7 linked regions of the Homo sapiens genome follow. The protein of the gene in region 2 interacts with the protein of the main gene of each other region in a biochemical or structural test. Each region holds a gene or a part of one and is shown on either strand. Other genes may lie near its edges. The genes, in order: NOS1AP, GIPC2, LPAR1, CSPG4, SLC6A3, PTPRG and CBY2.

Region 1 (3,500 bases), about 84 Mb from region 2:
CTAAGAGCATCCTCAAGGCAACAAAGGTATAAAGGGAAGGCAGGTAATTATAGCCAGCGAAAGCATTCTGAAAGTTTGAGTCTTGGGAGTAGCTGCATTATGAGTAGGCAATAGTAAACAGTGAGTCAAGCCTGATTAGTATAGATAACTGGCAAAGGTCATCATTAGATGTGGCTGCATGATTTTGACCACTAAAAAGGACTGGGACATTGTGGGCAAAGGAACTACGACTGAAAGCCATAAAATCATGAAATGTACAGCTAACGTGGAAATAGATTTGTCCATCAAATCCCAAGATACCAGGTGTGGAGGAACATACTGGGACATCTGAGAGCAATGTAAGGACAAATAAAATAGGTGTCATTTCAGAGCAGTACTGTATCTTTGGAACTCACTGCCCCCCACCAAAAAAAAAAGTAGTCTGGGCAGAAGATAAGTGTTTTTAAAAGCATCTGGAAAAGCATAAGAAAGTGAACTACGTCTCCTCCTTAATGATGACATCAGAAAATACATCAGACCCTTAATCTGAATTGCTACTGTTCCAGAACCCTGGAAGACAGGACCCTTAGTCTGGGTGGAGAGAAGGGAGAAAGGGGACATAAACACCCAGTGTATAGTGGAATGGTTCTGAGAGCTCTGTACCATGCCATGCAGGCTCAGACGAGTCAGGGATACCCCATTTACGGTGACCAAATGTCATTCATCTGGAGGCCTTCATGGCCGTATGTTTAAGAGGCATCCACAGATATCCTGCTGAGGTTACTGGAATCTCTAAAATCCACATCAGGGAAACCATCAACCAATGAAGCCAGGTAGCAAGGAAGGAAATATAGCCAGAGAATTCAGCTTCAATCTGACCACATGCTCCCAAGCCACAAAATCACTCAGCAATGATATTTACTGCTTTCAGACTTTCCACAATTGGTCATTTCTTCCACTTGACAATTTTTCATTGTGACTATGTTTGTACCTGATGTTGAGGCTTGGGAGGGGGAGATACACCAAGGCATGAGGCAAGGTCCTCAAAGAACATTCCATATCACCAGAGAAGATATATGCAGAGAGGAAAAAACAGAATTTTGTGTGGTAAACAGCTTCAGCAATATCTCTCATCCCACGTGCAATCTTGCAATGTGAACTTGACATTCCCCCATCAAGAAGTAGGGCTTATGTCTCTTCCCTAATAGCCTGTTTTGACCAACAGGATGTGGCAGAAGTGACCCTATGTAACTCAGAAAGACCCAACCTTAAGAGCTTCTGCTTTCCTGCTTGGAACACCCCCTACTGAAAACCAGCTGCCAAACAAAAGGGCCACCATGCTGTGAGGAAATCCAAGCCAGCCAGTGAAGAGAATAGTCACATGAAGGACGACCAAGGCACAGTCATATGAGTGAAGCCTTCTTGAACATTCCAGCCTAGCTGTGGATGAATGCAGCAAAGTGAGTGATCCAGTCAACGCCATAAGCAACAGAAGAACAGCCCAGCCAAGCCCTGCCTGAATTCCTGAGCCATGATTCATAAGCAAATTAAACAGTTATTGTTTCAAGCTACTGAGTCTTGAGGTCGTTTGTTTTGAAGTGATGGATAACTGAAACCAGTTTGAAGCCAGGGAACCAGGGATAAGTCCTGGTTCTGTTATTATCTGACTATGTGACCTTGGGTCCATGACTTCCCCTCCAAACTTCAATTTCCTCATCTGTACAATGATGGGGTGAGGGGGTTGTACTAGATGAGCCATGGTGCTTTCCAGTTCTGACCATCTGTATCATACACGCAGATATAAGGGAACAATCTAGGCAATGAGTGTTAGGACTACAAAGGGAGCAACTATTAATACTTCAGGTTTGAGTGAGCCTTGGAGGAGGTGAAAGAACCATGGACCTGGAGTCAAAAGCCCTGGAGTGTGAGGATTAAGTGAGGCAGAGGCTAGAATAATGTATGGCACATAGTAAGTGCTCAATAAATATCATTAACTGATACACCAATTTGCAACTCTGGACAAATTAATCTCTCTGATCTCCATTTTTTGGTCTGAAAAATCGAGATAACACTAATGTGCCTGTGCCTGTCTCTATAAGAGGAAAAGTCTTTGTATGTAGAAGTCCAATGCAAATCAAAAATCACCTACAGATATAAGATATAACTATTATTAATACTCTTATTATCCTTTGTACCCATAGCATTAAAAGTCTCTTTCTCACCAAGAGAGGAGAGACAGTCAGTTGATGGCACTGGCCACCAGGAAGACATACTGGGAGATCAGGAGGCAGTTACTAAGGAGCCACAGGCTCTCAGGGCATGTGAGATTTACCCACCCACCAGCATCAGTCAGTAAGCCAGGTACCCACTCTGAACACAGACAACAGGTTTCCCTGGCAAGCAGCTCTCAGCCCAAAGGGAAATCTGGAAACAGCCAAGCATTAAAAGTTTGAGCCGGGCGCAGTGGTTCACGCCTGTAATCCCAACATTTGGGAGGCTGGGGCAGGCAGATCACCTGAAGTCGGGAGTTCGAGGCCAGCCTGACCAAAACGGAGAAAGCCCCATCTCTACAAAAAATACAAAATTAGCTGGGCATGGTGGCGCATGCCTGTTATCCCAGCTACCCAGGAGGCTGAGGCAGGAGAATCACTCGAACCTGGGAGTTGGAGGTTGTGATGAGCTGAGATCATGCCATTGCACTCCAGCCTGGGCAACAAGAGCAAAACTCCATCTCAAAATAAATAAATAAATAAATAAATGTTTGAATAATTTCCTGTACCAGAGTTCTAGAGGCCAGCAACCTGAGAACACTCCACTAGAGAGCTGTGACTCAAACCCGTGGCCAACATAGAGTGAATATTCCATAAAAATTATTGAATGAAAAGGCACTGGATTTGGGAGTCTGAAGTCAAAGCCCCAGGCTTAAATCTTGGCTTTGTCATACACAACTGTGAGCACTAAGGCACGCAACAACCTCCCTGAGCCTATGTCCTCGTTTATAAAATAGACATAAGGAGACCCATCTCCTAGGGAAGTAGTGAGAATTAAATGAGGTACTGCAGGTGAAAAAAATCTGGGATTGCACTTGATAACTAAATGCATGGGTTTTTAAGTGCACAGAACCTCTGCCACCCAGATGCCCTTCGATCCTAACCCCACACCTTTCAATCTCTGCAGAACCCTGAAAATGAGTGGCATACTTCCAAAGGAACACTCAATCCAATGTTGATTCTGAAAAACTGCCAGCCCTTGGGAGAGAAAGAGCTGCACTCATTTTCCAAGGGTACCCGACAAGGCAACAATAATACATTTGCATTTTCCAGCCTGCATTTTTCCAAAACAAGGGAAGACTGCGATGTGGATTTAACCCTGAAATCCCAGTGATTGTGCAGTTGCATAGACACTGCTCTGCAGGGATGTGGAAAACAGCCAGAGAAGGCTCTTACCAGGAGCATGTAGGACAGAAAAGCTCGTGCTTCCACCTCTGCTTAGGTCTTGACTAACATGGTGTTTGAATGTGC
Region 2 (4,297 bases):
TTTCACCATGTTGGCCAGGCTAATCTCGAACTCCTGACCTCAGGTGATCCGCCCGCCTCCACCTCCCAAAGTGCTGGGATTACAGGCGTGAGCCACCGCGCCGGCCTCCTAAAGAATTCTTAAGACTCTCCTCCCCCAGTACATCTGCTAACCTTAAGTTGAGAAATATGGATTTTCGGGACTGAATTGATGTGAGAGGTGAGGGAAGAGGAAAAATCCTGATACGACGACTCCACAATGTCTGGTCTGGGAGTGCTTGGTGATCCTATTAACTGAAATCAGGAGTAAAAAAAAGAAAAGATAGATGCAGGAGAAATGATGAGGTCAGTTTTGTTCAGTCTCAATTTGGGTTTCCTACAGTACATTCCCTTTCTGGTAGAATAAGCTGGAGTTGGAGACATTTGGTAGACAACAACGTCTGTGAAACCGAGAATGTTGATGTGACCATACAGGAAGAACATGCAAAGCTAAGTAAGAAGGGAAGTTTGTCGAGGAAAAACTGTCGGTGAATGCAACTCCTGGAGACTAGCAGTTAGCAAGGAGCAGGGTGGGGACGGGGAGAGGAGAGGTAAGGAAGCCAAAAGAGGACAAAATTTAAGAAGAATGAAATGGGCAACGCAGACCAAGTAAGATAAAAACCTAAAAGAATTACTTGTATTTGGTAATTAAGATATGATAGTGATTTCACTCCACTGAAATTGCATAGTAAGTGAAATTTCAGTAGTGTGGGGGCAAAGTCTGATCACAGTGCTTCTAAGAGCAGAGAAGTGAGGAAATTTCGTAGCTAATAATTCAAGACTGTTTTGCTTTGTTGTAAAAAGCGTAGTTGGAGGGGACTGGACTTGAAAACAATGCAATAAACGCGAGGTAGGGAATTGAGGGAACTCACACTTCACACCGAATGGCCTCAATTTTCTTTGTACTATATGAGGCAAGGTCCTCTGTAGAGACTAAGAAGGGCAGAGCTGGGGCAAATGGCTTTGGAGGCGTGCTGAATGTTGGGAGAGGAAGCAGCCCAGGAAATAGGCAAAAGGGAAACTCAGAGGTGCCAAGGACCCGGCTGAGGGGGTTTATGAATACAACGTAGCACCAAGCTCAAGGTTATGTGACTTTCTCTTCCAATTCTGCCCTGCAGAGCGTAAGACGCAGAAAATGCAGACGAAGGTTGACTTCTACTTAAATCCCTATCCCCGAAAGTCCAGACGTACGGACCCGAAGGCCTGTGGCCAAATCATGCGTGGGTGCCTACTACAGATTTATGAAAAGCAGAGAAGGGCCAGCGTGTTTGCCTTCTAAGGCGTATTGTTCTGTAGCGTCGGCATCCTCAGGCGTTCACGTAAATAGAGCCATTTTTTACAAGGAGTAGGGATAAACCTGGTGATAGGATGAGGGACTACGTAACTTTCTTTCTCTCCAGATCCATCCCGGGGGAGGCTGGGCGGGCGGGCGGCTGCTCCGGTCCAGGGGTGGAGGTCGGGGCCCTGACCCGACGCAGCCAGGCGGAAGCGCGGCTGCCATTGGAGGCTGCTTTTACCTGCGCGGGGCCCGGGGCGCAAAGTCCGAGGCGCCGGGGGGAGGAGGCGGCGGACGGCAGCGCAGGTGGGCCCGCGCTCTCGGCCCTGCAAGATGCCCCTGAAGCTGCGGGGGAAGAAGAAGGCCAAGTCCAAGGAGACCGCCGGGCTGGTGGAGGGCGAGCCGACGGGCGCGGGCGGCGGGAGCCTCTCAGCGTCCCGGGCTCCCGCACGCAGGCTGGTCTTCCACGCGCAGCTGGCGCACGGTAGTGCCACGGGCCGAGTGGAGGGCTTCTCCAGCATCCAGGAGCTCTACGCCCAGATCGCGGGCGCGTTTGAAATCTCGCCGTCGGAGGTAAGGCGCCAGGTGCTCAGGCTCTCCCGCCTCTCCGCCGCGCCGCGCCGCGCCGCGCGTATTTCTGTGGGCCCAGGAGGGTTGAGCGGCGTTTCCCGGAGCGCGAAATCCGATGCCGTGTTGAGTCCGCCGGGGGCGTCCCGGGGGAAAGTGAGTGTGCCTTCCCTGGAAGGGAAAATTTAACTTGGCAGGACCGCAGAAAGTCACAGTCCCCCTTGCTCCGAGATCTGGCCTTTGGGAAGCGGGTTGAGGGAGGCAACCTTTCTTCCGCTTGCAAATGTGTTTGCTCCAGATGTCCCGGATTCCGCCGGCCGTTCAAGGCGTGAGCACCTTCCCAGACTCGAGATCTGGCGGGGCAGATTAATACCCTCCACTTCATCTGGACTTTACTCTCCTGTTTCCTCCGCAGGCGTGAGAGTCACGCAGGTCATCTCCCTAGATTAACGGGGGAAAAAAAAAATAGAAGTGCCTTGCAGGTGATACCCAGATTAAGTGGGGGGGAAAACATTGAAGAGCCTTCCAGGTAATACCAAACGGAGGCCCACTTTCCCCCAATCTGTCATTTCTAACATCAGCACCAGAAACCCTTTGGTGGTATTTCCAAGAAGTTTAAAAAGCTGGGCTGTTATTCCAAGAGTGGATAACCTAGAGATTCATACTTAATCACGTGGGACTAGTTAACAAAATTTTCATGAGGAAGATCAGCTCTTTTACATCGTATCCTTAAAAAGGGACTGAAATTTGCTTTAATTAGATTTCATGGGGGCCTGGAACTAAGTTTGACACAGGCATGACCTAAAGCACTAGTTTATGTGAACGTTTATGTGACCACTTTATTTGTGCTAACCCAAGTGAACTGCAAAGGTAGGTGTGAAAAGTTAGCTCAACAAAATATTTTGTCCACATTTCTAGGAAAAGCATATAATTTTGTTGCCCTGGACTCAGAGGAGTGCAGAGAGCTGTCTTTGAGGCCTACAGCGGCACCTGGAGTTCTTTAATTAGTTGTTTATCAGGTCTGTTCAAGGGAAATTGAGGTCAAGGCAAAATTCCAAGAGGAGACGAAAGAGAGCTTAAAGTGTAACCCTTTGTTCTTTCGAAGTTCCCAGGCACTAAGGGGCAAATCGCAAACCCATCTGTGAATTATTTGTATTGATATAGGATACTAATAATACTTCACATTTATATAGGATTTTTTTTTTTTCAAAAAACACTTTCACAGGACACTTTCCTTTGATCTCTAGGGGAGGCAGGTGGCAGGTTAAATACGATAACTTGGACATGGAGCCAGGTTCTACCCTTTACTAGCTGTGTGGACTTGAATGAGTTTAACTTCTCTCAGTTTTCGCCATCTGTAAAATAGAGATTAGAATATTTGTCTTGAAGAGTATTGTGAAGAGTGGAGTCCGTATGTAAACGTATCAGATTGCATAGTTTATGGTTAGGGCTTAATACATGGTAACTAATATGATTAATACCTAACAGTTAAATGAAGGACTGAAGTACAAAGTGATTGGCCCTTAGCCAAGGTCACATACCTAGCAAAAAAAAACTTGACTGTAATTTAAACTTGGATCTTCTGATTCCTAAGCTAGTGAGCTTGTTAGCATACTTAACTGACAACTTTAAATGTCTTTGCTGTAACCAGGGACTTCAGTTTTAGTTACAGATGGTCCTGGGTTTATGATAGTTAGACTTAAGATTTTTGACTTCGCCATGGATTTATTAGGATGTAACTTCCTGGACTTAAGATTTTTCCACTTTATGGGTTTATTGGGGTATTAAATGCATTTTTGACTTATGATATTTTTGACTCACAATGGATTTATTGGGACATAACACCTTGGTAAGTAGAGGAGCATGTGTATTTTGCATTAACACTTCTCATCATTATATATGACATTATTCTGAGCTCAAGGTACATGATTTTATTCAATCTACTTAATCCCTAAGAAGTAAGTATTATTATTAATATCCCCACTTCACAGAGAGGAAACAGACTTTGAGGTTCAGAATTTTTCCAGAATTACACATAGCAAGTGGCAGAGCCTGGATTTGAATTCAGTGTATTCTTTTTTTTTGTTTTCTGTTTTTCTTTTCTTTTTTTTTTAATGAGATGGGGTCTCACTCTGTTGCCCAGGCTGGACTGCAGTGGTGCGATTATAGCTCACTATAGCTTCAAACTCCTAGGCTCAAGCAATCCTCCTGCTTCACCCTCCCAAGTAGCTGGGACTACAGGCATGTGCCACCACATCTGGCTAATTAAAAAAACTTTTTTTTAGAGATGTGGTTTTTCTGTGTTGCTCAGTGTGGTTTGAAACTCCTACTCTCAAGTGATCCTCCTACCTCAGTCTCTTGAATAACACAGACACGGAGCCATTGTGCCCATCTTTTTTTTTTCCTCCCATGAAGCTATATTGTTACCCAAGTTTTC
Region 3 (3,500 bases), on a different chromosome or scaffold from region 2:
GGCTCTTTCTGGAAAGATCTTACACCTTTTAAATTTTAACATGGGAAGAAATTATAAACAACAAATGACAGTGTTTGAATTCTCTCACTTTTGAGCAAAGTCAAGCAGCTTAAGTATGAGAGAATAAAGATATTCCCTTCTGTTGCCCAGAAGGAGAAAAAGATCATTTTATTTAAAATCTAGCTATTGAGATGCATGTTCCTTGTGTCTAATCAAGTTCTGAATTTGAACTCAATTAGAGCTTTGATAAAAGGAAGGGGAAAGGAAACTTGAAAGAATGCTGTTCCATTCATGAAGGGACTGTGTGTTTTTAGTTTCCAAGTAAATGGCATAATGGGACCATGCATTTTCCATCCAAGCATTTTCCATCCTGAGAATAATTCCCTTCCTGGCTTCTCAATGAATAATGCATTATTTCTGAAACCCAAGAGGCATTCCTTTGATTTTCCTTTATGTTTAGCTTTCTGAGTGATTTTCAAGCAAGGAAATTCAAGGACTTGGAATGAATGCTTTATTAACATTTTTATTGAAGTTCAAATTGCTCCTTGGCTATTATCTCCTGATATTTGAAATATTTTTTTCTCTCCAAGGAAAGTCTAAGGTGTTGTATTTATTAGAAAATGAAGTACCTTGGCCAATCTTCAAAGTGAACAGCAGTTTAAAACCAATACACATTTGTGTTGTAGAACAAAGAGCTTTATGGGGGTACTTTTCTCCTTTATTTTCATTTCCCTGCTGAAAAGTTTCACAAAAGAAAGCTCAGATTCAAAAGTGGGCTGTTTGGAGACTAAATCTCATTTGTTTACATTTTGTGAAACTAATTCCTTGAGGCTGGACCAAATCCATGACCCCAGTCCAAGCCTGCATCCACCAAAGCCAGCGCCATTTAAATCTGAAGATGCAAATGCCCTTCTGGGGTTGCTCCTACTTCCGCTCTGCCTGATTACACATATGTAGCCTGCCTGATTACACATATGGGGCCCATTAGGTGAGGTGTAATGGGACACAGTGGTGCCCACCGCTGTTGGCTCATGTTCTTTCAGTAGAAGATCCCCAGCAGAGTCTGGAGTAACACAGTGGTAGGATTTAATGCTATTTTACAACCTCCATTTTCCTGGGATCCAAATGATGAGTGATTTCAGAAACTAAATGAAATAGAATTAAGCATCTCATCTATATTTTCATTCCTCTTACAGTTATAGTAAAATTGTAATGATTCAGAATAATTGGGGGAAGAAAGAGAACAAAGTTGATCTAAATTAGTAGAACATCTGAAATAGTAAATTTGGTTTAAAATATTTAATGTTATCATTTTCAAGATATAGAAATGTAATATTTTCTAGAGCTTGAACTCTGGAGGCAGCCTCTAAGAACAGAAACTCTGGGATTTTTCTGCTTTCCAGTACTGTGGCCTTGAGCCAGTTATATAAACTTTCTGGGTCTCAGTTCCTTCATCTGTACAATGGGGATATTAGTTTCTATGTCATATGGCTACTGTGAAAATTCAATAAATTATTACTGGTAAAGCATATAGGACAGCACTATGTGGGTAGTTGTTGAATAAAAATAAAACATAGATCTTGTCATTGAAAATCACAATTTCCAAACAGGCCCATGCTACTCAGCAGGTAATAATTATTATTGTTATTGTAGATACAGATTGAGTGATTATTTCCTTAACACTTGTTTAATCCATACAACAAACCTTATGAGGTGTAAATATAATCATCTGCATTTTCAGATGGGAAAATTAAGGAAAGAAAGTAGTTTGCCTAAGTTCACCCAGTTTATTACATGTCAAACAAAGATTTGGGCCCAGACAACCTGAATCCAGAAACTATGCCTTAATTAAACATTAAAGGACACTTATCATTCGTGCTTATCTTTTGCCTGAAAATAACACTGCTATTAAAAACCATGTTGTTATGTGAGGTGAAGTGTTTCCTGAATGCAGTTTTTCATATCTCAATTGCTTATCAAACTCTTTGTGTTTTGCTCAAAATAATAATCATCAATGTCTCATAATTGCTTGATTTTAGTAACGTCCAAAATAAAATTTTAAGTTGACTATCGTTAAATTTTTTCTGATTTTCTCAGGAAATGAGTATTTCATTTGCGACAATGGTGGCTTCCAACTTCAGTATTTTTATATTGAACTGAAATCATTTCACTTTATGGTCGCATGTTTTATAATATTTTTTCATTCTCTTTTTAAAAATCCTTCTGATCCCTATCCTTGTCCTTGTAGGGGCCTTTATCATCTGCTGGACTCCTGGATTGGTTTTGTTACTTCTAGACGTGTGCTGTCCACAGTGCGACGTGCTGGCCTATGAGAAATTCTTCCTTCTCCTTGCTGAATTCAACTCTGCCATGAACCCCATCATTTACTCCTACCGCGACAAAGAAATGAGCGCCACCTTTAGGCAGATCCTCTGCTGCCAGCGCAGTGAGAACCCCACCGGCCCCACAGAAGGCTCAGACCGCTCGGCTTCCTCCCTCAACCACACCATCTTGGCTGGAGTTCACAGCAATGACCACTCTGTGGTTTAGAACGGAAACTGAGATGAGGAACCAGCCGTCCTCTCTTGGAGGATAAACAGCCTCCCCCTACCCAATTGCCAGGGCAAGGTGGGGTGTGAGAGAGGAGAAAAGTCAACTCATGTACTTAAACACTAACCAATGACAGTATTTGTTCCTGGACCCCACAAGACTTGATATATATTGAAAATTAGCTTATGTGACAACCCTCATCTTGATCCCCATCCCTTCTGAAAGTAGGAAGTTGGAGCTCTTGCAATGGAATTCAAGAACAGACTCTGGAGTGTCCATTTAGACTACACTAACTAGACTTTTAAAAGATTTTGTGTGGTTTGGTGCAAGTCAGAATAAATTCTGGCTAGTTGAATCCACAACTTCATTTATATACAGGCTTCCCTTTTTTATTTTTAAAGGATACGTTTCACTTAATAAACACGTTTATGCCTATCAGCATGTTTGTGATGGATGAGACTATGGACTGCTTTTAAACTACCATAATTCCATTTTTTCCCTTACATAGGAAAACTGTAAGTTGGAATTATCTTTTGTTTAGAAAGCATGCATGTAATGTATGTATGCAGTATGCCTTACTTAAAAAGATTAAAAGGATACTAATGTTAAATCTTCTAGGAAATAGAACCTAGACTTCAAAGCCAGTATTTGTTTAGGTCATGAAGCAAACAATGCTCTAATCACAATATTAACTGTTTAATTAAAATGTTGTAACAAGTATAAAACAGGGAATGTAAGTTTATTACCAAAGTGATATGTATTCCAAAAAAGTCATAGAAGATGAAGCACTATAATATTGTTCCCATATATTTAAAATACCCAAGTACATTCTAATTACCAGTATATCAGAGGAAAATTTTCGTAGTCTTTGTAAAATAATATACTCATCATAGAAAACTTGAAAAATGCAGAAATGTATAAAAAAGCAAAAATGATTACTGATAATATCA
Region 4 (3,500 bases), on a different chromosome or scaffold from region 2:
TAATTATTATTATTATTATTTTGAGACAGGGTCTTGCTCTGTTGCCCAGACTGGACTGCAGTGGCGTGATCATGGCTCACTGCAGCCTCGACCTCCAGGGCTCAAGCGATCCTCCCACCTCAGCTTCCCAAGTAGCGGGGACTGCAGGCACATGCCACCACACCCAGCTATTTTTTTTTATTGTTTGTTGAGACAGGGTCTCACTATGTTGCCCAGGCTGGTCTTGAACTTCTGGGCTCAAGCGGTCCACTTGCCTCGGCCTCCCAGAGTGCTAGGATTACAGGCAGGAGGCACTGCACCTGGCCAGAAAAAACTATTCTTGACTTCACATTTTCCACCAGCTTCACCCCTGCCCCTTTGCTTCTCTTTGCAGCAAAACTTCAAAAAGCATAGTCCACGCTCTCCCCCAGGCATTCTTGGGTCTCTCTACCCAGGATTTTGCTCCCCCATCGCCACATCTCCTTTTGCCAAGGGCACCAGAGGCCTCCGTGTTGTTGGATCCAGCGGTCGGCTCTCAGCCTCCTCTTAACTGCTCAGTGGCACTGGTGCCGCCAAGCAACCCTTCCTCCAAGAGAGCCACAGGCTCTGGGATACTTCACTCTGGGGTTCCTCCTACCTCACAGACTCTCCTGGCTGGTCCTCCTCTTCTCCCCAACATCTTATGGCCAGGTCTCCAGGCTCTTTTCTGTCTACAGGCACTCTCCATGAGTCCTTATTCAGTCTCCTGGCCTCAAATGCCAGCTGTGCTGAGACCCCCTTATTTGTAGCTCCAGCCTAGCCTGCTCTCCCCTGAACCCCAGACTCATGTTTCCAGCTACCTCTGCCGATATCTAATAGACACCTCAAACTCAACCTGCCCCGGCTGCACTCCCGATCGGCCCCCACCTCCTACAGTCATCCTGCTTCAGAGACTATAGCTCCGTTTTCAAGGGCTCAGGCCACACCCTTGGAACCACCCTTGCATCCTCTCTTTCCCTCAAACCACCGCATCTCTCACCTGGATTATCGTAACAGCTTCCTGTGTCCCAGCTGCAGTCCCCCGCCCATTACATTTTGTTCCTAACACAGCAGCCAGAGTGAGCCTTTTGAAAGGGAAGATTATGGGGCTCTTTGGCTCACATAGTGCAGTGTCTCCCCATCTGACCACTAAGGCCTGGCTGTGACCATATCACCCCTGCGACCTCAACTCCCCTCACCTCCACTCCAGACACACCTGCTGTTCTATGGTGCTGCCTGCAGTTCAACACCAAAGAATATTCTTCGCTCCAGGAAGAAAAACGGTTTTCTCCACCTCCAATCACAATGTGTTCTTTTGGCCTATCTTTTGCTCCCCACCCACCCTTTTTTTTGAGACGGAGTCTTGCTCTGTCGCCCAGGCTGGAATGCAGTGGCACGATCTTGGCTCACTGCAACCTCCACCTCCACCTCCCGGGTTCAAGCGATTCCCCTGCCTCAGCCTCCTGAGTAGCTGGGACTATAAATGCGTGCCACCACGCCCAGCTCATTTTTTGTATTTTAGTAGAGATGGGGTTTCACCATGTTAGCCAGGATAGTTTCGATCTCTTGACCTCGTGATCCACCCGCCTTGGCCTCCCAAAGTGCTGGGATTACAGCTGTGAGCCACCGCGCCCGGCCTTATTTTCCCCTTTTAGGAAACACTGGGAACTATTTTCTTCTCAGAGAAAAACAGGACTTGCCCAATAGTAACATGGAAACTTAACAGGGTCTTAACCTGTGAAGACTCTAGGAGCAGAACCCGGAGTAAGGGGGAGCAGGGGCCGGAGTAAGGGGAGCAGGGCCCCGTCTAAGATGGGGCAGGGCCTGGGCTAAGGGAGAGCAGGGCCGGGCTAAGGGGAGGCAGGGCCCAGTCTGAGGTGGGGGCAGGGCCTGGTCTAAGGGGAGCAGAGCCTGGGCTAAAGGGCAGCTGAGCCCAGTCTGAAGGAGAGCCGAGCTATCTGAATAGGGGCTAGCACCTGTTCTAAAGGAAGTGGCTGCTCCCCTGCTTTCGCTGTAAGAGGGAACACAGGCCTTTTAAGAAAATGGGAATCAAGTTTTTTGTTTAATTTCCCAAAGGTTATATGTTGACAATTAACTTCAAAGTATTAGCTGCTTTTTGTAGGCCAAATAAACACGTCTGTGGGCCAGATCTGGCCCAGGACTAGAGTTGCCAGTGGCAACTTCTGGCCCAGGCTGAATGGTGGGCAGGAAGGAAATGGAGCCCCCAGGAGTGGGAGTGGGAGCTGATGCCTGGGTACGGGAGCTCTGTGGGTGGGAGTGAGACAAAAAACAGGGTCTTGAGCTCTGGGGAGCAAGCAGTGTCCTCCAGTGAAGGAAATCCTGGACTCGCAGGCAGAAGTTTTGCCTCTTACTCGCCATGTGCTCTGAATAAAGTTACCTGCCCTCCACGAGCCTGTTTCCTTATCTGAAAAATGGGGACACCTGACCCCTTCCCTGCCCAGTTTAGTGTTGTGGGACAGGGCTGCTGTCAAGACAATACCCAGTCCTGCCCTCCTCCCAGAGTGGGCCAGGGTAGCCCACGTAGCCTCTTCCCTGCTTTCCTGGGTGGCACTGCCAGCCTGACCCCCTGGTGTCCATTCAGTCTAGTCCTTCATATTTCTGGGGCACGGGGAAGCTCTGAGTAACGTGGGACTATAAAGTGCAAGAGGGTTGCTGATGGCCTGGTCCCGTGCCCTCTCCATTCCTGGGCATTCTTGACAAAGGCTCCCAGCAACTGAGGGTACGCAGCAGCTGCAGACACCAGCCTGACAAATATCTCATTGTGGGGAGGGGGCCATAGCAGGAGTGGGGAGCCAGGGAAATACAGAACCTGGGACTGGGAGGTGTTGATGTGAGAAGCCCAAGAAACTTCATTCCACCTGTCAAAGCCACCTCCTTCCAGATGCCCAAATCTGAGCCACTTGCTGGGCAGGGACTTTGCCTTTGCACTTGCTGAATACCATCTGCACCTCTCAGGAGGGAGAGTGCCAGGCTCAGGAGTCCCTGCCGAGCTAGGAAAGGGGGCTGGGGTGGGCTCTGCCATTTTTTGAAGGCTGGCAGGGGGACCCCTCAGGAGGTACTTGGGGCAGTACCATATGCTGTGGCTCCTGAGTGAGAGTCAGCTCTGCGCCCCACAAGACCACTCCCTACCCAGAATTCACTGTCATCATGTGCTGGGTCCAGATGCCCATGCAGCCTCCTGGCGGGAGCATCACATGTGCCGCCTGCCTGGGATGGCCCATGGAAGAGTCTGCCCCGCTCTGCCCTGCTATGGAACAACTCCTGTTCTGTCTTCAGCGAGTGGTGTTCATTTAAGTGATGACTGGGCTGGCCCCCATGGCACAGTTATCACAGAGAGTCTGCTGCTACCCATGGCTGAGAGCTCTAATTCTTCCTGGTGGTCTCTGAAGCCACCAGGACGGATGAACAGCAGCTTCACCCTCTTGGCTGACTCAGCTGCCTTTCATCAGCTCATCTGCCCCTAGGATCCACTCTGCCTCTGG
Region 5 (3,500 bases), on a different chromosome or scaffold from region 2:
ACACGGACCACGGTGCAAGCTCAGCATCGCTTACGACTGCAGGCTCAGAGGCAGCACTCCTCTCTGAAACACGTCCGTGCCGCTGGCCAGGGCCAGGCAGGACACAGGTAACGCGTGTGTCTTGAACTGTTAGCCTGGGTTCACTGCAACGCCGGATTTGACACGCGCCCCTGTCTGTCTGTAACAACAGGCCTGGGTCTTCCGTTGGCTGCTGCATTCTTCCATTGGGGACCTGATATCAGGGACCTGACGACGGGGACGGAGGCATGTTCTGAGCAATTCTTGTACGGTTTGACTTCTACCTGCAGATCCCGCCAAGGGGTCGTCTGGCACCAGTGCATGCCCAAAGCATCTGTCTCTCACTCTGAAGATGTGTGTGGGGTGGGGGTGGGGGTGGGGGTGGGGAGGGAGGCCTCTTTTTGTAGCTCCATTTCAGTGCAGTCCAGTGAATGTGGAGCCCAGGAAGAAATTACTGAAGTCATAAGATTCACTAAGCAGCCCATTAAGAACGAATGAGTCTCGTGCCTGGGAAGAACCATCACACCTGTCCAGTCTCAGCATTTCCACGGCTGCGAGACTGACTTCTCCTCCTGGAGCCTGACCTCAGCAGCTGTGAAATGCCATCTGTTCCCTCTCCTAAGGGAGGTCAGCGGCTCGCCTCTGAAGGCCCACCCCTGACCCATTGGTAATGCGTCCTGGGGCCGTGCTGGGCTCGGCTGTCTTCTAAACACACAGCTTTTCCAGAACTTCTATGAGTATCCAGAGGCTGACCTTCTAGTAGTCATTTTCTTAATGCCAATTTTCTGAGTGGTGCCTCTGAGTAAATGCCTGAATCCTCCCTGAACCACCAGCCCCTGAGAGGTGGCTTTGGCCCACTGGGCAAGTGTGACCTGCGTGCAGGGATTGGGGAGTCAGAAACGTCTGGGATCAAATCCCACTCTGCTCTGATGGGGACACCAGGGGGAACGACCCCGGCCCTCTGGTCCTCAGCATCTGCATCTCCAACACAGAGACCTAGTGTGTGCCCTTCCCAGGGTCTCATGAAGATGGAGTCAGAAATGCTGGGAGAGGGCTTGGTGCTGGGCAGGCCACCTGCACTCAACACGAGGTGTGTCCATTTCATGGTGCCAGAGCAGGACATCAGCAGCCGGAAAGGTTCAGTGACAACTAGATGGATCAATAGCTAGTAGATAGGTGGATAGGTCGATAGGTGGATGGATGGATTAATCCATACATAGATGAATGGATGGATGGATGGAACAATGGATAACAGATGGATGAATGGATAGATGAATAGATAGAAGATGGATGGATGGATAGATCCATAGATAGATGAATGGATGAATGAATGGATGGATGGATAGATAGATGGATCGATAGGTAGATGGATGGATCAATAGATAATGGATGGATGGATGGATGGATGGATGATAGATCCATAGATAGATGAATGGATGGATGACTGGATGGGTGGATGAATGGATTGATAGGTGGATGGATCAAAAGAAAATAGATGGATGAATGGGTAGATGACAGACGGGTGAATAGATGATTGACAGATAATAGATAGATAGAATTGTGGGATGTGTCCCTCCCCCAAGTTCATCTGTTGAAGTTCTAACCCCGCAAACCTCAGAATGTGACTTTATTTAGAGACAAGGTCTTTACAGAGGTGATCAAGTTAAAGTGAGGTCATTAGGGTGTCCCTAATCCAACAGGACTTCTGGCCTCATAAAAACGGGGAATTTGGTTACAGAGATATGCATAGAAGCAAGAAGTATAAAGAGGCACAGGGAGAAGACAATCTCTGAGACAAGGAGAGAGGCTAGAACAGATGCTTCCTCACAGCCTCAGAAGAAATCAACCCTACAGACACCTTGATCTTGGACTTCCAGCCTCCAGAGCTGTGAGACAATAAACGTGTGCCTTTTAAGCCTCCCAGTTTGTGTCATTTGTTACAGCAGCCACAGGAAACAGATACAGATAGATGATGATGATAGATGGATGGATTAGGTAGATAGGTAGATAGATGGGTGAATGATTGATATAAAGACCAATAATAAAGATAGATAATGGATAGATAGATAACAGATGATTGACGGATGGACCGATGGATGATAGGTAGATGGCAGATCCATAGATAGACATGTGTTTTATCTTAACTACATTTTAGCATCTTGACAAAGTAACACCACAAATGAATTGCAGGACCCTCACCTAGAGCAAGGGAATGAACTATCCAGTCCTTGTCACTGCAGATCTTTAAGGTGGGACCCAAGTTCAAGTGGCGTGTGCCATGCCTGTGTCTTAGCAAAGCAGGGCTGGATGCCCATGATGCGGCTGGCTTGCTTTGAAAGCTCCAGCGTCACCACCATGATCCGCGCTGCGCCAGGGTGAAGGGAGGCACCCGCATATTACCTTTCAGTATGGGGCAGATCTTCCAGACACCAGCGGCCCCTTCCCTGTTGAACTGGCCGAGGGCCAGCTCCATGTAGAAAAGTGGCATCCCAGCAATGACCATGAAGAGCAGGTAGGGGACCAGGAAGGCACCTGTGGGGCAGAAAAGCACCTTTAGTTTGGGGCCTCGGAAGGGCCCATCTCTCCTCGTGGGAGCTTGGGCGGCTACCCCAGTCAACCATCCATGTCCTGGCCCGACCGTTTCACCCCACTCTCCAACGGGAAGTCCCAGGCTAGGGTAGATGAGTCCCGAAGCCCGCCCTCCACTGCTGTCAGTGCCTGACACGTCCCTCCTGGATCCCCTTGTCATTGCGCACCTCGAGCCATGAAGTCAAACCCAAGAGCAGCACAGGGAGGCCCTGCCCATGCTCAGCGGTGCTCTAGGTACTATCCTTCCCCGTGGTGGTTCGGGGTGCCCTTCCCTGGCCTGCGTCCCCCCACTTTGCCCTGATCCTCTTTGCCTCTTGAGTTGTGAATCTGTGACCCCCCAACTCTGCCCCTGAGCTGAGTGGGCCCTGCCGTCCTGTCCCCAGCTTCTGGGGCCCTCAGAGGCTGCCCCTATTGACTGTGGCTGAGGGTCTTTGCTGCCCCAGGTGCTGGGAGCCCCTCCAGGGTAAGGCCTAGTTCCTCTGAAACCTGCACCTCCCCCACCCCCAGCACAAAGCCCAGGGAACCCTGGTCTCAACCTCCTAAATTCCCTCTGCTCCCCTGGTCTGACTGGAGTGAGGGAGAGCTTTGCCACTCTCTCTCCTGGGGAAGGGGAGGGGGAGGCATGGGGCCCCTCAGCTCTGTCTTTGGGCAACTTCCTGTACCTGCTGAGGCCTCTGTCTTCCCCTCTTCAAGATGGGCATAAAAATGCCAGCCTCCTCGCAGGCATCCTGTGAGGCTTCCCCCCAGATTCTTCCCCAGGCCTCCCTTCCCAGACCTAGCATAGAGGCCAATGAGGGAGGCCAGGCAGGGAGGCTGGGAGGCCCAAAGAGGCTCCTGGGAAGGGATCACCAATGTTCTTGGACGTCCCCGGTGGCCCTGCCTCGATCTTCGCT
Region 6 (2,770 bases), on a different chromosome or scaffold from region 2:
TTAGATGTATAGAGTATTGATATGAGTTAACACTTTTTAGTAGATGGCAAAGTGGGCTTGATGTTCAAAAGTAATGTTCGAGTTAGGGTTCATGGTCCCTTTCTCAGTAATTTTTTCTTAATAAAAGTAAACACTGGTTCAAAGACAAATAGCAAGTATTCCCTCCTGTGCTATTTATAGAGGGCTCAATTCGTAGAAAGGCATACCCTCCAATGCAATTCTGTGGCTGTCCCTTACAGTGGTTTCAGAATCACGAAAAAACAGCTAGTAAATAGGATAGAAACAATAAAAGAAAGAGTTTAGAAGTTCCCTGTGAGCAATCTGTGTGTCTTCAGCGAGCTTGAACCAAAGTCTTCATATCCTGACCCACTGAATTATAAGCAATTGCTACTTGCCCATCTTGCCAAAGTAGTCCAAACACACTTCAATGAGGACAGTTATATTTAGCAGGTCCTCACCCCTGCAAGAGACAGCATATCCTCACTATTATTATTCATGTGTTATTGGCAAAAACATAGCTTGCATCTTTCCAGAGGCAGAGTTTCAAAGACAGGGTTTTCTTTGAGACATAAGCACATTGCTTAAGTACATAACAAGGTTATTAACACTTGCACTCAGGGGAAAGGAAATAGCTATTGCAAATTAATGTGTGCAACTTAATAAAATAAGCTGTTTGTGTATATGAATTTAGCTCTAGGTAAGCAAAATGCACACATCATATAAAAATAAATTGCAATGATCAGACCAAGTGGCTGTGCTGGACATCAAAGAAAAGACATGCTGTTGCCATCAGGAGAACTCTTTCTTATATGCGATAGCCAAGATATCTTCTTTAATATGAAAAAAGTTAATTTCTGAATTTCAAAAAGAGTAAGATTAGCTAATTGGTCTTCCTAATTTTTATGCCTTTAGAGTTTTTAGTCTATTCAAGTAGAAGAGTCCAGCGAGGCCAAAGAAGGGTTACGGTGTTCAAGTTCTGGTTGTTGGAGTTTTTAGCCCAGAGTGACATACTGAAATCAGTAAATAATTATTTTATAATGACACAGCACAACTGCCTTGTTATGAATTTTTCTTAAATGCATATATACTGTATTTAAAATTAAAATATAGATACCAATTTACCAAAGATACATATTACTAATTCTAAGCAAAACTAAAAAAAAAACCCAACTCATCATAATTTAAGAATCAAAATGTAGTTTGTCTTAAGAATTTAGTGGTTATACTGGAAATGCATTTTCAACTCCTATGTTCTAAAGTTTATGTTCAAATGGTGCCAGTGAATTTTTATATGAAGGGAAAATGCCTGCTTTTTTTTTTTTTTTAACAGATGTAATTTCACTTAACCCTTTGCGCTTTCCCTTAGTTGTCATTTAACATACAATACTGGCTTTACTTATCTCTAGAAAGAAGAAGGCATGCTACAAATAGGAAGGAATTGTAATAATGATATTTGGCCTCTACTTTGTCTTAGCTGTTAAACTGTTTTTAGTATTTTTGTTAAATATTTGCAAAGGGAAGCATTTTCTACAGAGGATAATTAATTTCAAGAAAAATATCTTGAGTTTTAAGAAATAAACATCTCCAGAAAAGGAGAAAGTCGATTTTATAAAATGTCGCAACTCTCCAACATTTGGGGTAGTGACTCCTTTTTTGTTAGGACATTTGAAACTAGCAAGCAGCCATTGTTTCTAAAGAATTCTGGCTTCACATTGACTCATGTTTCTTTCACTCCATTTTGAAATAGCTAAAAATCATTAAAACTGTAAATATTTTGTTGCTTGGGTAAGCATCTTCTGGGAACTTTGTATCTATGGTATATAATCATAGAATTTTATATTTTCATATAAAGCTAATTTTTTTCTAGTTTCAACTCCGTCATAGTTTTTTTTCCTTTTTGTGGTGGATATGTGAATTCAACTTTCTGTGTATTGAAGTAGCAAAAACCATCTTTACATTCCAAAAGAATCCAACATGTGTTATTTCTTTGAGGCAGTGATTGTGAAAGTTGGGTTTTCTTTTTAATTCCATTGACCATTTGTGCAATAGGAATTAGACATAATTAGTCACTGAAAACATTCGTCACATTGACCCATTTGGAAAAAGTGTGCTTTTTTTTTTTTTTTAAATTTGTTCAGGGGGAGGGGTTTTGTAACCTGAAATTTTTCCCTTTTTCTTCTGTTTAAACTATATCAAATCATTCTATTATAGTGTTATTTAATATGTAAATTGTATTGCTATACATAAAATAAAGTATGGTTTTTGATGTATTCAGTAGTGTTGAGCATTTCTATGAAAATGTCTATATCCAATAAAATAGGTTACTAGTCTCCCTTAACAGATCACATTAATACCCACCAACCCTCTGGTCTAAGTTTTCATGGTAGTAAAATGAACATTGGTAGTCGTCTTTACACAGGCAGCAAACCAAAAAGAATGGTCTTTGCTGGGTTGATTTATCAACGTTCTTTCTCCTTTAAAGAGTAAACAATGACAGTTTTACCTGCTCATCTAAGGAATCAAACTTTATTCAGTTTATGACTCTGCTGCTAAGTTGTGAACAGAATTACTATTTTCTCTAGTGTATCAACTAGGTTTGTAACAACTCTCTTAATATTTACGAGGTAGGATGAAGGATATATCCTGGCAAGAGTTCTGGAGAATCTATATGTGTAAGATCAGTACAATTGCTTCTACTTAACAAGAACTTTTGACATTTCCAAACAGGTATACAAGTCCCAAACTTGGCAGCTTTGGCCTACCATTCTGT
Region 7 (4,219 bases), on a different chromosome or scaffold from region 2:
CCTTAGGGTGATAACATGTAGTGATCACAGGCATTTCCAATGTAATTGAGAAGCCCAAACGCACAGCAGGACTGGCAGCTGGGAGCCAGAGGCAGTCTCTGGAGACAGAGCTGCTGCCACAAGTCCTTTCTGAAACAAATGGAAAGTGGACTCCATCCCAGAATAGAGCAGCTTTTGGCAAATACAAAATAAGAAGCCCAGAGATGAGTGGTTAAGATGCAGGGAGAAGACTCCATCTCCAAAAAGCAAGAGAAGAACCATGGAGCTAAGATGCAGCATGGCCCAGCTTACTGGCATGTGCCCTAGTATAGCGGAGAACATGGGCACTGATTTGAGTTCAAGCCCCTTCCTCGAGCTCTGCCATTACTAGTGGGGTTCCTGGGGTTGCCGGTTCCTGTACCTGTAAAATCTCTACCTCACACTTGCTTGGCCCCATGCCCGACACATGATCGCACCAACATTCAGTCAATATTTCTTCCTCTCCTTGCTTCCCAGATCAACCCTGTCCCCTAAGCCATGTGCCATCTCATTTAGGGAGGTAGAGTGAGCACACTGGTCCCTCTCGCAGGCCTGGTGGTATTTTGGTTCGGATCATCTAGTTGTAGACACCCACACCCATCCCCCAGAGTGCCAGTCTTGAGCATCCTGACAGGTGTCCAAAACCTGGTGCATGGCTTGTGCCCTCTTGGCAGGTGTACGCACGAAGCTGCATCTGCCCTTGTGAGGTACACGTGCCCAGACAGGAGATATCCTCTCATTCTTCACCCACTCTGCCCCACAAGACCCCAGCAGCAGCACCAGGTCCTCCAGCACAGGAAGCAGGCAGCCCCAAGACAAGCTTGAGCTGTCTTAAACCACCTTCTCTTCTCCTTGATCGTTGGGCTGTTTCTGGGAGCTGGGGAGGGAAAGTTGCGGTGGGTGTTGATGGAAACATCATTCCAATTTCTCTATCACATGACCACTACTCTTTCAAATCCTACCCCCTCCTTCACACCCACCCCTAGGTTGGCATCCTCTGCCTGACCAAGTTTCTTAAACACCAACTTTGCTAACATTACCGAGGGTTACTATCAGAGAACATTCAGCCATCTGAGGTACTTTCAAAGCATGTAAAGTTGAGGGGCCCCAGGATTCTGGAAGAAAAGATTGGTTTATATGGGCTATGAGGAATCACAGCAGTAACACCCACTCTTGGGGGAGTAGTGGCTAACACAACTCCCTGCGTATTTCAGGTGGAAAGAATCAGGCCCAAAAAGATTCCTACAGCTTGTTATCTTGTTGAATGATCAGGGGGAAGTTATCTTATATTCTGGCTAAGATTCATGGGCTAAAAGTAACAGAAAAGTGACTGTTCATTACAAAGTTATAAAGATAATGTGAAAATAAACATCCAGGATGTTTTCTTCTTCCATATTTTTGCCTCCCGCTGAACATACTTGCCTAGATTGTTACAATTATATATATGGAATGCCCACCAGTGGTCAATCCTCCTCCTACACATCCCTGGACAGAGCTCTCAGATAGTTACCTCTGCATTGGATTCCTCCATCCTACATTTCAACCCCTCTGGTTGCATGGCCCTGGTCTTCCAATGAGGACTTAGGTGACTCTGGAGAAAGCAAAGCCACCCCTTTGTGACATAGCAGCAGTAGAAACAATTCAATCAAGAGGACTCCACTAAGGAAACAGCTGATTGCAGGCAGGAGGAGACCTGAGACTCTATAGCCTGTGAGGACTTCACCAATTCATTGACTGAAAAAGCATCTATGCCCATGGCCCCTACATCTGTCTTTGATGCATAGCAGGGCTTAATTCTCTTGACAGCTCCAAATAACTCTGTACCCCTTTGTCCACGGATGAGGTTTTCTTCTCATGGATTCATTCTTATGCATTTGATTTCAAGTCCCAGTTCTAATTCTCCCCCAGAAATCCAGAGTGATTGCACAACACTAAGCACCAAAAGATCTCGTTTTGAGAAGGCTGGGTTACTTCAGTGTATCATAGAAACTTGGAATGTTAGGACTGGAAGTTCTTACCAGATCATCTGACCCAGCCACCTCATTCATGGGAAAAAGAACCCAAGGCCCAGAGGGGCTATGTGGCCTTCCCCAGCACACCGCCTGCTGGCACCCAACCCAAACTATAATCTGAAGCCCTGACTATCTCTGCTTATTCTACAACATCTTGCTAGAGTTTTGAAGGAGGAGATGGGGGGTTATTCTGGCTAACACTGATAGGTTACATCCTTCTGTGATTATCCCTACCTGAGGTAGAACCACACTGATTGGAATTTCTAGGCTTTCAGATCTGGTATCTCTTTTTCTTGTATAATTTGGCCTTGAGTGCTGTGGAAACGAGAAAAGAAGAAGATTACTGCTTCCCAGCTCATCCTCTGGGCCTCAATTGCTCGCCTAAAAAACACAGAACTTTCTACTCATTTATTTCTCTCTTGTCAATTATGTACAATTATGAAAGTCTGAGTCTGAAAGAACGTGTAGATGATATCTGGCATGATGGTTTATCAATCTCTGAACAGATATTAAGCTAGATATTATAGTTGATGTAAAAGGCTTTTGAAAGTTTTTGAAGTGGAGATAGCTGTACCTGCTTCCCTGTCTAAGATGATTATTTCTATCTCAAGTAAAAAGCCATACCAATGTGAGTTGCCAGGTATAGGTCCTATGCAGAAGTTGGTCACCAAAACACTCAGAACATTCCAGAGGTGACATCACAAAACAATATGGTGTTTTTCAGGGCTCATGGTTTCTCTCTGAGCATCACAGGTGGGAATGAGGCATCTGACAGGCAGGAAGAGCTTGTGGGTGCTGTGACTACTTGGCTGGTCAGGGTCAGTGTGACACACACAATAGCCCAAACATTAGCCCCCTGTTGGGTCATTCCAGCTGCCATTCGTATTCTCACTGCCAGGCTAAGTTGAGATCCCTATTCTCTCTCCAGAAGTGGCATCTTCTTGGAGTTGGGTCACTCAAGAAGAAAGAAACACAAACTGAACTCTTCCCATACCAAGGGAGAAAGTGTAGTCTGAGGTGTTTTCTGACACTACTCAATTCCTTAATTCTCTGACACCAACTGTGTGCCCTACAATTCAATTTCATCCTGATGCTATCTACCAGAGTTAGTGTTACAGAGCTGAAGCGGCTCACTACCCAATGCAATAGAAGCCAATACTAAAACACTAAGTTCTTTAAAAAAGAAAAACTTGTATATTGAAAGTCAACTCCCAAGGAGACAAGAGTCAAGCTCAAATCTGTCTCTCTGTGCTGACATTAAGGTAGTATTTTTATTAGAAAAGATTCAGGGGGTGGATTCTGAGATTAGTAGGTGATTGGTGGATGGAAATGGGAGGTCTGGAAAGTCCCAAAGAGTAAGAAACCAGTTACTTAATTTTTGAGTTTCAAGATAGCAGATAAGAAAAGAAACTTAAGCCGCTGAAACTCCCTCCACTTGTGAGATCAAGAAAAACCTGGCTGAAACTGGTTGGAACCAAGATGGCTAACTGGAGCTTGCACAGAATAAGCTTGCTGATGTCATAGCCTGAATTTCCACCACGTTTCATACTAACTCTCCCTGAATTTGCCATGCAACTCAGGAGTTAACATGAAGAAATAACTATGCATGCCCAAGGACTTTCCAGACCTCCCTTTTCCTTGCACAAATCACCTACTAATCTCAGAATCCACCCCCTGAACCTTTTCTAATAAAAGTACTGCCTTAATGCCAGCAGAAAGAGACAAATTTGAGCTTGACTCCTGTCTCCTTCAGAGGTGACTTTTAATATAAAGCTTTTCTTTTTTTCAAAAATTTGGTGTCAGTGTTGGCTTCTAGCACATTGGGCAGTGAGCCCCTTTTGCTTGTTAACAAACTAGAACCCCAGGTGAGACGAACAGCCTGTCCAAGGTACTGTTGCCCCTAGTGGTGTGCAGGCCCCCTGCACTGATCCTGAGTGGCCACCTAGACCAGGGTGTCCAGAGGCTCGACTATAGGGTTCCTTCTTCTCCACCATGGCACTTCAGGCTCCCTTGGCACTTCTCTTTTGGGAAAATAAATTGCTTCTGGATTAGACATCTTTCTGGTGAGTACCTTGTTAATATGCCCCTGTACTTTTAATTGTCTTTGAACTCATCATAACGACTGTGGGTTCAAGTCCCACCCTGTGGTTTAGGATTATGGATGAGAGTCCCAACCTTGTCTAGGATTG

The links.
Region 1: the proteins of GIPC2 (region 2) and NOS1AP interact in a test that uses a peptide from one of them, tested with the Homo sapiens proteins (one large-scale study listed by IntAct).
Region 3: the proteins of GIPC2 (region 2) and LPAR1 interact in a test that uses a peptide from one of them, tested with the Homo sapiens proteins (one large-scale study listed by IntAct).
Region 4: the proteins of GIPC2 (region 2) and CSPG4 interact in a test that uses a peptide from one of them, tested with the Homo sapiens proteins (one large-scale study listed by IntAct).
Region 5: the proteins of GIPC2 (region 2) and SLC6A3 interact in a test that uses a peptide from one of them, tested with the Homo sapiens proteins (one large-scale study listed by IntAct).
Region 6: the proteins of GIPC2 (region 2) and PTPRG interact in a test that uses a peptide from one of them, tested with the Homo sapiens proteins (one large-scale study listed by IntAct).
Region 7: the proteins of GIPC2 (region 2) and CBY2 interact in a test that uses a peptide from one of them, tested with the Homo sapiens proteins (one large-scale study listed by IntAct).

What each region holds. Positions count from the first base shown.
Region 1 is NC_000001.11:162,072,691-162,076,190, reverse strand, and holds part of NOS1AP (carboxyl-terminal PDZ ligand of neuronal nitric oxide synthase protein), read right to left. Parts: intron 1-3,500. UniProt on the Homo sapiens protein: Adapter protein involved in neuronal nitric-oxide (NO) synthesis regulation via its association with nNOS/NOS1. The complex formed with NOS1 and synapsins is necessary for specific NO and synapsin functions at a presynaptic level.
Region 2 is NC_000001.11:78,044,469-78,048,765, forward strand, and holds the start of GIPC2 (PDZ domain-containing protein GIPC2), read left to right. Parts: upstream 1-1,497; 5' UTR 1,498-1,626; coding exon 1,627-1,866; coding exon of another isoform or gene 1,867-2,016; intron 2,017-4,297.
Region 3 is NC_000009.12:110,874,471-110,877,970, reverse strand, and holds part of LPAR1 (lysophosphatidic acid receptor 1), read left to right. Parts: intron 1-2,248; coding exon 2,249-2,550; 3' UTR 2,551-3,500.
Region 4 is NC_000015.10:75,678,349-75,681,848, forward strand, and holds part of CSPG4 (chondroitin sulfate proteoglycan 4 precursor), read right to left. Parts: intron 1-3,500. UniProt on the Homo sapiens protein: Proteoglycan playing a role in cell proliferation and migration which stimulates endothelial cells motility during microvascular morphogenesis. May also inhibit neurite outgrowth and growth cone collapse during axon regeneration.
Region 5 is NC_000005.10:1,438,941-1,442,440, forward strand, and holds part of SLC6A3 (sodium-dependent dopamine transporter), read right to left. Parts: intron 2,551-3,500; coding exon 2,419-2,550; intron 1-2,418. UniProt on the Homo sapiens protein: Mediates sodium- and chloride-dependent transport of dopamine. Also mediates sodium- and chloride-dependent transport of norepinephrine (also known as noradrenaline). Regulator of light-dependent retinal hyaloid vessel regression, downstream of OPN5 signaling.
Region 6 is NC_000003.12:62,295,340-62,298,109, forward strand, and holds the end of PTPRG (receptor-type tyrosine-protein phosphatase gamma isoform 1 precursor), read left to right. Parts: 3' UTR 1-2,270; downstream 2,271-2,770.
Region 7 is NC_000013.11:45,700,901-45,705,119, reverse strand, and holds the start of CBY2 (protein chibby homolog 2), read right to left. Parts: upstream 2,801-4,219; 5' UTR 2,730-2,800; coding exon 2,655-2,729; exon of another isoform or gene 2,605-2,654; intron 2,346-2,604; coding exon 2,265-2,345; intron 1,610-2,264; coding exon of another isoform or gene 1,529-1,609; intron 1-1,528.